Homo sapiens: one gene and its partners. The protein of the gene in region 1 interacts with the protein of each later gene in a pairwise test. Each region holds a gene or a part of one and is shown in the gene's direction. Other genes may lie near its edges.

Region 1 (3,500 bases):
GTGATCTAGACTCTTACCATTTAGCACAGGAAGGAACTTTGGCTACACATTAGAATTATCTGGAGACTGTTAAAAATGTAGTTTTCGGCTGGGCGCGGTGGCTCACACCTGTAATCCCAGCAGTTTGGGAGGCCAAGGTGGACGGATCACTTGAGGCCAGGAGTTCAAGACCAGCTTGGCCAACATGGCGAAACACCATCTCTAATAATAATACAAATATTAGGCCGGGCGCAGTGGCTCATGCCTGTAATTCCAGCACTTTGAGAGGCTGAGGTAGGTGGATCACTTGAGGCCAGGAGTTTGAGGCCAGTCTGGCCAACATGGCAAAACTCCGTCTCTACTAAAAAAAATACAAAGATTAACTGAGCCTGGTGGCACTCACCTGTAGTCCCAGCTACTCGGGAGGTTGAGGCAGGAGAATTGCTTGAACCCGGGAGGTGGAGGCTGCAGCGAGCTGAGATTGCTTCACTGTACTCCAGCTTGGGTGACAGAGAGAGACCCTGTCTCAATAAATAAATAATGTAGTTTTCTGATTTAGTAAATCTAGAGAGGGGTTCAGGAGTTAGTGTTCTTGATGAACTCCTAGGTGAACATGACTGGCATTTGAAAAATACGGATCTACTCCCACCCCTTTATTTTTCAGGGAAGAAATAAACACAGAAGAGCAAACTGAGTAGCTCAGAGTGGCATGGTCAGTGGCAGAACTGGGTCTCACACCTGGGTCCTTTTTAGTACACATCTACATGTCACCTTAACCCATTCCCCTAAAGAATGGAGGCTAGGGTTGGGCACGGTGGCTCATGCCTATAATCCCAGAACTTTGGGAGGCCGAGGTGGGTGGATCACCTGAGGTCAGGAGTTCAAGACCAGCCTGGTCAACATGGTAAAACCCCGTCTCTACTAAAGTACAAAAATTAGCTGGGTGTGATGGCGTGTGCCTGTAATCCCAGCTACTCGGGAGGCTGAGGCAGGAGAATTGCTTGAACCTGGGAGGCAGAGGTTGCAGTGAGCTGAGGTGACGCCATTGCATTCCAGCCTGGGCAAAAAGAATGAAACTCCATATCAAAAAAAAAAAAAAAAAAAATAGAGTTTTTATGCTAATAAACACGAAAGCAAAGTAAAAGGAAAATGACACTGATGAATTGGAACAAACTCCTAGTTTCTGGGTATTTATTTAAAATTATGTATCATTTGATTGGCTTCGCTCATTTATTTAACATGTATATATTGAGTGTGTTTTATATGCCAGGCTAAAAACAGATTAAAATCCCTGACCTCACAGAGCTGACGTTCTCAGTTTCGTTGCCAGCAGGTGATCTTGCATGAAAGCTGCTCTTGCATGAAAGCCCAAGCCCCTCAGCTCTAGGGTTAGGAGCACAGGCTCTGGAGTTAGGCATACTGGGTTTAAGTCCCAGGCCTCTCATTGGTCAGCTGTGGGATCCAGATAGGTTATTTACCCTCTGTCTTCAGTGTCTCCCCCTGGTCAGTGGGGTCGTGAGGCTTAAATGAGGTAATGCACAGGAAGCATCTTCCTGGTGTCTGCTACTGGTACTCAGGAAGTGTTGGCAGTTACTGTTAGCAGTGATACCTAACCCCTGTTATAGATGGTCCGTGTGCACGAGAAATCATCCCTGTTGCTGAACAGCTTAGCTGATTTTGAGTCGTGGTCTTACTCCCCATCCTAGGGAAACTTGGAGGGGAAGGACCTGTAGCCATGTCTCCCTTACACATCTCATGGCAGCTCAAGATGGGGAATCCTGTTGCAAGAAGTCTCCCCACACCCTCTGGCAGGTTTTGCTTTGCCTCGCTGCTGTCCTGTTGTAGGGCATGGGTAGGCCTCGCTGAGTGAGCAGAGACACCAGTGAGTAGTAGTGAGTAAAATTCGAGAACACTAAATCCTGAACCCCTTTCTAGATTTACTAAATCAGAAAACTACATTGTTAACGCAGTCTCTGGATAATTCTAATGTGTAGCCAGACTACATATTGCCAAAGTCCCTTCCCATGCTAAATGGATAAAAGTCTATGACATCACAAATATATCTGCCACATTAGCCATTTAAAATCATTCCTATAATAATTTCAGGTTGGGCGTGGTGGCTCACACCTGTAATCCCAGCACTTTGGGATGCAGAGGCAGGCAGATCCCATGAGGTCAGGAGTTCGAGACCAGCCTCATCAACATGGTGAAACCCTGTCTCTATTAAAAATACAAAAATTAGCGTGGTGGTGGGCGCTTGTAGTCCCAGCTACTTGGGTGCCTGAGGCAGGAGAATTGCTTGAACCTGGGAGGCAGAGGTCACAGTGAGCCGAGATCATACCACTGTACTCCATCCTGGGCGATACAATGAGACTTCATCTCAAAAAAAAAAATCATTCCTATAATAATTTCTTTTTTTAAATTTTATTTATGTATTTTTTTTTTGAGATGGAGTCTCACTCTGTCGCCTAGGCTGGAGTGCAGTGGTGTGATCTCGGCTCACTGCAAACTCTGACCCCCAAGGTTTAAGCAATTCCTCTGCCTCAGCCTCCCGAGTAGCTGGAATTACAGGCATGTGGCACACGCCTGGCTAATTTTTTTATTTTTAGTAGAGATGGGATTTTGCCATGTTGGCCAGGCTGATCTCGAACTCCTGACCTCAAGTGATCCGCCCGCCTCGGCCTCCCAAATTGCTGGGAGTACAGGCGTGAGCCACTGTGCCTGTCCTCCTGTAATAATTTCAAAACAAAAAGTTAAAAGAAAACATGCCTATAGTCCTTCTATCTTAGACCAAATAACATGGAGCAGATGGTGGCATCTGTAGGTGACATCCCCACTCCTAGCACAATCAGTCTTTTCCTGGCAGCTGGGCAGACACTGAACCAACTCAGAGAGTGAGGCCGCTGCTCAAGCCTGCATTCCTTGGCTCCTCATCTGTGCCATGAAGGCAATTTTGGGCCAACCCTTTTCCTTTGCAGTCCCTCAGCTGCCTAGTGTATAGGAATGTGGACCTGAACTTACTAGAGAGTTGTGAATAGTCATTATGTATGCCTTTTCACAAGTTGTACCTTCTTTCTGGAAAGCTGTCCCCATCAGGCAAGATTCTGCAATGGGGTCCTTTCCTCTGTGAAACTCTCTTTGGCCATTGGGCTCCTGTCCTCTTCCTTTCTTGGTTGGCTTTAATTTTTTATTTTTATTTATTTATTTGTTTTTGAGACAGATTCTTGCTCTGTTGCCCAGGCTGGAGTGCAGTGGCATGATCTTAGCTCAGTGCAACCTCTGTCTCCTGGGTTCAAGTGATTCTCGTGCCTCAGCCTCCTGAGTAGCTGGGGCTACAGGTGCATGCCACCATGCCCGGCTCGTTGTTGTATTTTTAGTAGAGACGGGGTCTCACTATGTTGACCAGGCTGGTCTTGAACTCCTGACCTCATGTGATCCACCTGCCTCGGCCTCCCAAAGTGCTGGGATTACAGGCATGAGCTACCATGCCCAGCCTTTGGTTGTCTTTTAAAAGGGTTGAT
Region 2 (3,500 bases), on another chromosome or scaffold:
TTATAGGCACACGCCACGATGCCCGGCTAATTTTTGGACTTTCAGTAGAGATGGAGGTTTCACTGTGTTGGGCAGGCTGGTCTTAAACTCCTGACCTCAAGAGATCCGCCCACCTTGGCCTCCCAAAGTGCTGGGATTACAGGCGTGAGCCACCACACCTGGCCTCGTACCATTTCTTGATAAGCACACAGCCTCTGTTAGATCCCTCCAACTGAAATTTCTTTTCTGCCATTGCCATATTACCTCATTTCTTCTCCCCCTTTCTCTTTATTCCTTTCTTCTCCATTTTATTTGTGACTTGGAAACCTATTTGAGTCATTGTTAAGTAGGCCGGTCATGTGCCTGTATAAAAGGTCTCCTTAACCCATGTATAATACGAAAGGAGACTAGACATTTAGACAAAGAAACATGCTCTAAAACTCTTGAAAGTACTCAGAAAGGCTCGTTAGAATATCTATCATACTCTCCAACTCATCTCTTTAGTTTGCTGATTAAACCTGATTTTTTTTTTTTTTTTCTTGAGACGGAATCTCACTCTGTCACCCATGCTGGAGTGTAAATGGCATGATCTTGGCTCACTGCAACCTCCGACTCCCAAGTTCAAGCGATTCTTCTGCTTCAGCCTCCTGAGTAGATGGGATTACAGGCACATGTTACCACGCCCAGCTAACTTATATTTTTGGTAGAGACGGGGTTTCTCCATGTTGGTCAGGCTAGTGTCGAACTCCTGACCTCGTGATCCGCCTGCTTCGGCTTCCCAAAGTGTGGCAATTACAGGTGTGAGCCACTGCGCCCAGCCTAAACCTGATTTTAATAACTGACTTCTTTTTCTTTTCTTTTTTGAGACAGAGTCTCGCTCTGTGGCCCAAGGTGGAGTGCAGTGGCACAGTCTCGGCTCACTGCAACCTCTGTCTGGGTTCAAGCAATTCTCATGCCTCAGCTACCTGAATAGCTGGGATTACAGGCACACACCACCACGCCCAGCTAATTTTTGTATTTTTAGTAGAGACGAGGCTTCACCATGTTGGCCAGGCTGGTCTCGAACTCCTGGCCTCAAGTGATTGGCTCACCTCGGCCTCCCAAAGTGCTGGGATTACAGGTGTGAGACACACATCGGCCCAATACCTGTTCTTTATGCAAGATGAATGTTTCTTCTACAGAGGTTATACTGGTTTGGTTCTCTGGGCAGTATTTATTATGATTTTTCATGGACCTTTGTGAGTTTCAGGGACCTGAGCCCTAACAAGCAGCCCCACTTTCTATAGGGAAATGCCTGAAGAACGCCAAGCCTCGGACTTAAAATCAACTTCAGGAGGTAAACAAACCAATTTAGATTAGGGATTTCTTTCTTTTTCTTTTTTTTGAGACGGAGTCTTGCTTTGTCGCCCAGGCTGGAATGCAATGGCGCAGGCTCGGCTCACTGCAACCTCTCCTCCCACATTCAAGCGATTCTCCTTCCTCAGTCTCCTGAGTAGCTGGGATTACAGGCGCCCACCACCACGCCTGGCTAATTTTTGTATTTTTAGTAGAGACGGGGTTTCACCATGTTGGCCAGGCTGGTCTCGAACTCCTGACCTCAGGTGATCTGCTCACCGTGGCCTCCCAAAGTGTTGTGATTATAGGCGTGAGCCACCACGACTAGCCAGATTAGGGATTTCAGTAGTGAGCAAAACTGCCAGATACCCTGTTTTGTTTTCTCTGATTCTGCGTCGTACCTTCCACAGCATTAAACCCCCTGACCTGTAATTGCAGCTCATTCCACATTTGTTGAATGAAATCTGGTCAATACCCTAATACCTAAACATTGAGCCGACTAATACCAGAGATACGTGAGGTATTGCTCTAACATGGCACAGGCCAGAAGGGCTCATGGTTTGGCTGGTGGCCATGAGGCAAGCCTCGCTGGAAGGGAAACAGATTGGAATGTAGTGACTGTAAGCTCCCTCATCCCCTCTTTGGGTGGGAGGCCAGCTTCCTTTGTCCTGGCTGAGATCAGGGAGATAACTGCTGGAACCAAACTAGACCTTTCTGGTGTATGGTCCTCAATTTGAATTGCCTTTGGGTTTACCATGACAGCTCTTTCCTTTTGGGTTATTTTGACTTGGGTCAGCCTATTAAAGGTGGCAGCACCCTGTAGAGGCCTCGGGATGCTGAAGATGCCATGAGAAGACACAGGCATTCTGCAGACGCTAGACAATTTTAGTGGCAGTTAGTGTCGCAGAGCAGTATGAATGTCCAGAGCCTGAGGGTTGAAGCCAGGAGGCAGAGGGGCCGGTCCTGACTCCCAGGAAGGAGGCCTGAGATGCTGCTGAACTGTTGGGGCTTCTGCGATTACCCAGTCCTGCAACTTAGTGTGTCCTGGTGGCCACAATGAGAATCAGATGCTGTGGGTTCTCTAAAGCCCCGAAAGTTCTGTGAAAGTTACCTATAGGCTTGTGCATTGATTTAGAGGTATTTTCCATTCAATGACAGTGTTTCCTTCCTGCCGTCGCTCTAGGTTCCTGGTAGAGTTACACAGTTGTGCCGCCAGTATAGCGACATGCCTCCTTTGACGTTAGAGGGCATCCAGGACCGTGTTCTTTACGTATTGAAACTCTATGACAAGATTGACCCAGAGAAGGTAACTGATGGTGGTTTGAATTTTTTTCTTTAAATATAGAGTATTTAATTACATGCTAGAAAATGCAAAGGGAAAGATACTCAGTAAAAATCTCCCTGGCTCCCAGACACCCAGGCCCATTCTGGGAGATAGCCAGCGCTACCAGTTTCATGTATGTTTCCAAAGGTACTCAATGCATATGTTAAAGAAGTATACACACGTGTGTATATTATATGTATGTATCTCTCACCCTTTTTAAAAAACACAACTGGCCGGGCACTGTGGCTCATGCCTGTAATCCCAGCACTTTGGGAGGCCGAGGCGGGCGGATCACCTGAGGTCGGGAATTCAAGACCAGCCTGACTAACATGTAGAAACTTCATCTCTACTAAAAATACAAAATTAGCCGGGCATGGTGGCACATACCTGTAATCCCAGCTACTCGGGAGGCTGAGGCAGCAGAATCACTTGAACCCGGGAGGTGGAGGTTGCAGTGAGCCGAGATAGCGTGATTGCAGTCCAGCCTAGGCAACAAGAGTGAAACTCCATCTCAAAAATAATAATAAATAATAAAAACACAAGTGGGGCCGGGCGTGGTAGCTCACGCCTGTAATCCCAGCACTTTGGGAGGCCGAGGCGAGTGGATCATGAGGTCAGGAAATGAAGAGCAGCCTGGCCAAGATGGTGAAACCCCATCTCTACTAAAAATACACAAATTAGACAGGCGTGGTGGCAGACACCTGTAATCCCAGCCACTCGGGAGGATGAGGCAGAGAATTGCTTGAACCCGGGAGGGAGAGGGTGCAGTGAGCCGAGATCATGCCACTGCACACTGCAGCCTGGATGACAGGGTGAAACTCCATCTAACAACGAAAAAAAATTGAATCTGTTGTGTAGGTAA
Region 3 (3,027 bases), on another chromosome or scaffold:
TATAGTGCAACTATGCTGGTGATGAATTCTTTCAGTATTTCTGTTGCTTAAAAAGTTTAATCTTCACTTTTGAAAGATATTTTCACTAGGTAATCAAATTCTAGGTTAACAGTTTTGGGGGCGGGGGCAGTTGTTTTTGGTACTTTTTAAGACGTTGCCCTGCTGTATTCTTACATGCACCATTTCTAATGAAAAATTTAATTAATGTCATACTCACCTTTATTCTCTGTACCTAATACTTCTTTTTTTCTTTGCTTTTAAGAATTTTTCTTTTTTTAAATTTTTTATTTATTTATTTTTGGAGACAGGGTTTCCCTCTGTCACCCATGCTAGAGTGCAGTGGCACACTCACAACTCACTGCAGCGTCAACCTCCCAGGCTCAAGCAATCCCTCCACCTCAGCCTCCTGAGTAGCTGGGACTTACAGACATGTGCCACCATGCCAAGCTAATTTTTGTTTGTTTTTGTAGAGACCAGATTTCTCCATGTTGCCCAGGCTGGTCTCAAACTCCTAAGCTCAGGCGATCCCCCTGCCTCGGCCTCCCTAAGTGCTGGGCCAGGCGTGAGCCACCGTGCTGGACAATAATTTTTGTTTTTTTCTACTGCTTTTGCCTAATCTGATGATGATATGCCTTGGTTTCATTTTCTTCATATTTCTTGTAATTAAGATTTGTTGAGCTTTTTTATTTAGCAGTTTATACTTTTTATCAAACTTGGAAAAATTTTGGCCATGATTTCTTCAAATATTTCTTTCTATCCCAATTTTTCCCCTCCTTCAGGAATTCTAATTATGTGTATATTAGGCTGTCTGAAATTGTGCAACATGTTACTGATGCTTTATTTTTTTTCTATCTCCTTTTCTCTCTGTAGTCCATACTGGATAGTTCCTGTTGCTGTAACTTTACATTCACGAAATCTTTTCTTCTTCAAAAAATACACTGCCATTCTCTCCAGTGTATTTTTTTACCTCACACATCAGTTATCTGTAGATATTCTATTAGAGTCTTTTTTATATATTTTATGTACTTAACTTTTTGAATATATAGAATACAATTTTAATAACTTTCTTAATTGTCTGCTAATTCTAACATTTGTGTCAGTTCCGGCTTGGTTTCCATTGATTGATTTATCTCTTATTATGACTAATGTTTTCCTGCTTATTTGCATGCCTGGTAAATTTTGCATGCCATGAATTTTGGGTTTTAATTTGCCAGATGCTAGATATTTTTGTATCATGTTTTCTTGAGCATTGTTCTGGAGTACAGTTAGTTAGAAACTGTTCGACCCTTTCAGATTTTACTTTGTTTGACAAGACTGTTTTGCATACTTAGTGTCCATGAATCTTGACATTTTCAAGTCTGGCTAGTGGGAATAGTGGCTATACCCTGTGAGCACAGGGCACTCCTAATCTCTGGTTGTTCTTTCCTCAGCCTTGAGTAGTTTCCTCATGTGCATGTGCTGATCTTACTCCATGGAATACTCAAAGGGGAGCCTCTGAAGATCTTGAGTTTTTTCTGTGCAGCTCTCACCTGTCTAGTACTTTGTCCTGTGAACTGTAGCTACTTTGGTCTCCCTGGATGTTTTGCACTACCTCCTCAGCTCAGTCTGCTAAGCTCTGCCTGGGTTTCCCTTCCTTGCCCTGAGGCCGAGAAACTCTCAGGCAGTTAGCTGGAGCAGTCTTAGGTCTCACCTCTTTGCTTCCCATCTGTCCACAATAGCTGCTGTCCTTGCCAAATATCCATTATCTTAAGAGCTATTTTTTTCTGTCTTTTAGCCTTGTGTTGGTTCTTGGAGGTAGGGGTCAATCCAGTCTCTGTTACTTCATCTTGGCTGGAAATAAAAGTCTTCTTTACTAATTTTAATATTAAATAATAGCTTTTCAAAATTATTTTATAGTACCTTTATAAGCTATGTCAGTGTTATTTTCCCTATTCTCAAATGAAAAAGGAATAAAAGCATACCCAGCAAATTTAAGCATAACCATAATAAACACCAAGAGGAGTTGTCTCTTGAAAATTCCAAGACCAGAGTCCTCTCTAAATCCCCAACACCGAGCCTGAGAACCTGCTGCAGTACTCTTTTCCTGTCACACCTTATCAAATGCAATAGCCATCCAATAAAGTAACCCAGTTAAAAACTTAATTTAAATTTGTTTGATAGGTAAAAATTAAACTTAGCAGCACCACATTGAATGAACAAAAGCTGTAGAGTCATTGCAAGTGTCATGCTATTCATAGAGATAAGTGCTTCCCATCCATAATATTCTGCAGTCTTTGTGTATGCCTGGCCTTAGTAAAAGGAGGGATGCCCTTAGCACCCTAAATATTGCTTCTACCCCCATCTTCTTCCTGTGTTCCTTAAACCTCTATCACCAACTTAAAAATGTTCTCCAGGCATTGTAAATGAAGAAACAGCTTAGACCTAGTTATAAGCTTTTATCCAACTACATATCTGTCTGATTTAATAACTTGGTGTTTATGTTTTTAGGAACATAGCTACAGTGTAATGGACAGTCCAAAGAAACTTAAGCATAAATTAGATCATGTGATCGGCGAGCTAGAGGATACAAAGGAAAGTCTACGGAATGTTTTAGACCGAGAAAAACGTTTTCAGAAATCATTGAGGAAGACAATCAGGGAATTAAAGGATGAATGTCTGATCAGCCAAGAAACAGCAAATAGACTGGACACTTTCTGTTGGGACTGTTGTCAGGAGAGCATAGAACAGGACTATATTTCATGAAATAATTTCATGTTACGTTCCACCTAAAATTGTCATTGGTACAAATTTTTATAAAATCTCATTTACCATCACTAAATAATATCCATCATTTAAAGTGCTGCTTTGGATTCTCTGGAGCATTATGCATTATAGTTGTTATCCAAAGACTTTTTTGAAAATATGCAGAAATTTGTGGTAATTATGTATTTGTGTCTTGTGACAATTATGTTTTATAGACCTACACTAGTGCCAGGTCACTATTGTAAGATGTTAAAATCTCAAGAAAATTTCACAGAGCTAAAGAAA
Region 4 (2,941 bases), on another chromosome or scaffold:
CGACACGTCAGGGAGGGAGACCTGGAACAGATACTTCCCTCGCAGTCTTCAGATGAAAACAACATTGCCAACACCTTAATTTCAGAAAAGAGGCCTTCAGAACTTTGATAAATAAATTTAAGCCACTTTTTTTCAGTAATTCATCAGGGCAGTGCTAGTAAATTAATATACTCAGTAAATCTCCTGAGCTATAGATATATTCTGCTACACTATATGGCTTGAGGGTAATTATCCCTCACCAAATAGTAACTACTTTCTCTGTCTGCTGCTTTGCTTATATGAAGAGTCCAAAATGACTAGGCGATAAAGATTACTTTTGTTTATGCCAAAGAAATAGAGAAGCAAATACTATACTTTTTATTCACATGAAAATTTTAAAAAGCCAAAAGTTACCTACAGGATTACAACTGATAGAGTGATTAGCTGTCTTTGGGAAAGAGTAAGAGCATATAATTGGGAGAGAATGGAATTAATTTCTATTTCCTAACATAGATGTAATGGGACATAAATGTATTTACAATATAATACTATATCAAGTTGAAAATTAATAGTTTGCATTTTCTCAAATGAATGGTATACCTAGAAAATGTTTTAAACATGTTAGAACTCCATGATGAATCAGGCATCATCTCAACTCATCTAATTCCTTCATTAAAAAGAAATAGAGAGAGAAGACATGATGCTTACTGTGCTGGTAACTGGGTTGCAGCTAGAGCCAGAGCACATGCTGGTTGGCCTGAATCTCAAGCAGTTATGTCATAGAGAGTCCTACATTCTCGTCCTGGAATCGCCACACTCACAGACAAGTCAGAATGAATGGTCACTCAGGGCATAGTTTGCTTGATGTTGTCTAAATCCCAGTGAATTTCTCTGCATCCCCCTGCTCTCGATCTGCTCTGCCACATGGAACACACTGTGACAGACACCCTCTTCCCAAGTGACGTTCAAATAACGGAAAGGCACAGGTGGTGAGGGTGGTACAGAGAGATGCCTGTTAGTCTTGAGTCAGAATTTGGTGGGTGACTAGCCTTGGGCCCAGGCATGGATTCATTTTGTCACTGTAAATATATCAGCATCATGCTTCTCCCCACAGACACTTCCCAGTCTATATACAGCCAAACATGAGGCTGGCCAGAGAGCTTCCTGAGCCTCCCAGATCAACAGGAACTATCACATGACTAGATGATGGTCAGAATAGGAATGATGCTGATGATGAGACGGGCTTCCTTTTATCTCAAACAAAGTGTCTATGAGTAATTCACAATTAAGAAACAGATTAAACCTTAATCTGTTTAACCTTAAGGAAACAACTACCCTTTGAGAATCACAAACGGACTGTGGAAAACAAGATAAACAGCAACAAGGAAAAGTCCTGCTGATTGGTGGAAACTTTGGAGGCCAGGTGTATAAAAGGTCCAGAATGCAAGGGGTCATCAGATTCTGGGAAACTCACCTCTGAACAGAACTCCACCCTCTACCCCTGACACCATGACCCACTGTTGTTCCCCTTGCTGTCAGCCTACGTGCTGCAGGACCACCTGCTGGAAGCCCACCACTGTGACCACCTGCAGCAGCACACCCTGCTGCCAGCCCTCCTGCTGTGTGTCCAGCTGCTGCCAGCCTTGCTGCCGCCCAACTTGCTGTCAAAACACCTGCTGCCAGCCCATCTGTGTGACCAGCTGCTGCCAGCCTTCCTGCTGCAGCACACCCTGCTGTCAGCCCACCTGCTGTGGCCAAACCAGCTGTGGGTCCAGCTGTGGTCAGAGCAGCTCCTGTGCACCTGTGTACTGCAGAAGAACCTGCTACCACCCCACGACTGTCTGCCTGCCTGGTTGCCTAAACCAGAGCTGTGGCTCCAACTGCTGCCAGCCCTGCTGCCGCCCAGCCTGCTGTGAGACCACCTGCTGCAGGACCACTTGCTTCCAGCCCACCTGTGTGTCCAGCTGCTGCCAGCCTTCTTGCTGCTGATCACGTTCCAAGAGAACCACCATCCTCACACAACAAATTTCTGCTCAACTGACTCATCTTTTGGGGGACTAATTTAATTTGCTGCTGACAGCCACCATGCTCTCACCCAAATTTTTATGAATTCTCTACATGTTTAAAATCTTGGAAATCTGCTTGAGGGAGGGCAGAATACTTCATCCTGATTCTCTTTTTCCTTACACCTTGTGGATCATGTGCCAGCTTCATCTGTTCTCAAGTTTGAGTCATGGTCTCAGCTTTGACTCTAAAGTCAAGAGCTTCATTCCCTGCTTCTAAGGAATTTAGGTTTCTGCAACTGATCGATGATCTTTGCAATCTTTTTTTTGTTTTCAATATCCTCCTCATCGTTCTTGTATCCTTCTTTCTTCTTTTCATGATAAATTTGTGTTGTGTCCCTGGTAGCAGAAATCCTTACCTATATGTTTCTGAATAAATTCTGAACCATCCTCATCTCATATAGTGTTTTGTTTTATTTGAAAGCACTCCTGATATGGGATTTACACACATATCACATACCATAGTTATTATCCAATTTGATTCTCAAAACAGGTGGTCATGCATTATTACCTTCATTTTTCACCTGAAAAAAAATTAATATGTGATGTTATGTAGCTAATAAAGGACAGATTCTGATCCAAGCTGAGGTCCTCTCTTTCTGCCCAAGGACACTTACATTTAACTCTCAACATAGTAGAAATGACATTGGAAGTCAGCACTAGCAAGACATGCACTTGAGTTTATTTAACAATGAGAGGAATGATCTCTTATATTTGCAGATAACATTTTTGTTCACAAAAAAGTTTTCCCAAATAAGTTTCCCACACCTCAGTGAGCAACAGCTGCATGATATGGCAGCAGGGACTGCATTTAATGGCTGCCCTGAAAGCAGGGATCTCTTTTTGTCTCATCCTCTGACCAGTCATTCATTCAATTCATCTGCATCAAAAAATGCTTG

Evidence for each region. Proteins that work in one complex are often made in the same cells at the same time.
Region 2: the proteins of NTAQ1 (region 1) and NDUFAB1 interact in binary tests that used the Homo sapiens proteins (3 or more experiments, as listed by UniProt).
Region 3: the proteins of NTAQ1 (region 1) and THAP6 interact in binary tests that used the Homo sapiens proteins (3 or more experiments, as listed by UniProt).
Region 4: the proteins of NTAQ1 (region 1) and KRTAP9-8 interact in binary tests that used the Homo sapiens proteins (3 or more experiments, as listed by UniProt).

The regions. Positions count from the first base shown.
Region 1 is NC_000008.11:123,430,274-123,433,773, forward strand, and holds part of NTAQ1 (protein N-terminal glutamine amidohydrolase), read left to right. Parts: intron 1-3,500. UniProt on the Homo sapiens protein: Mediates the side-chain deamidation of N-terminal glutamine residues to glutamate, an important step in N-end rule pathway of protein degradation.
Region 2 is NC_000016.10:23,586,317-23,589,816, reverse strand, and holds part of NDUFAB1 (acyl carrier protein, mitochondrial precursor), read left to right. Parts: intron 1-2,497; coding exon 2,498-2,620; intron 2,621-3,500. UniProt on the Homo sapiens protein: Carrier of the growing fatty acid chain in fatty acid biosynthesis.
Region 3 is NC_000004.12:75,524,473-75,527,499, forward strand, and holds part of THAP6 (THAP domain-containing protein 6), read left to right. Parts: intron 1-2,487; coding exon 2,488-2,742; 3' UTR 2,743-2,957; coding exon of another isoform or gene 2,958-2,987; 3' UTR 2,988-3,027.
Region 4 is NC_000017.11:41,236,564-41,239,504, forward strand, and holds KRTAP9-8 (keratin-associated protein 9-8), read left to right. Parts: upstream 1-1,435; 5' UTR 1,436-1,488; coding exon 1,489-1,968; 3' UTR 1,969-2,441; downstream 2,442-2,941. UniProt on the Homo sapiens protein: In the hair cortex, hair keratin intermediate filaments are embedded in an interfilamentous matrix, consisting of hair keratin-associated proteins (KRTAP), which are essential for the formation of a rigid and resistant hair shaft through their extensive disulfide bond cross-linking with abundant cysteine residues of hair keratins.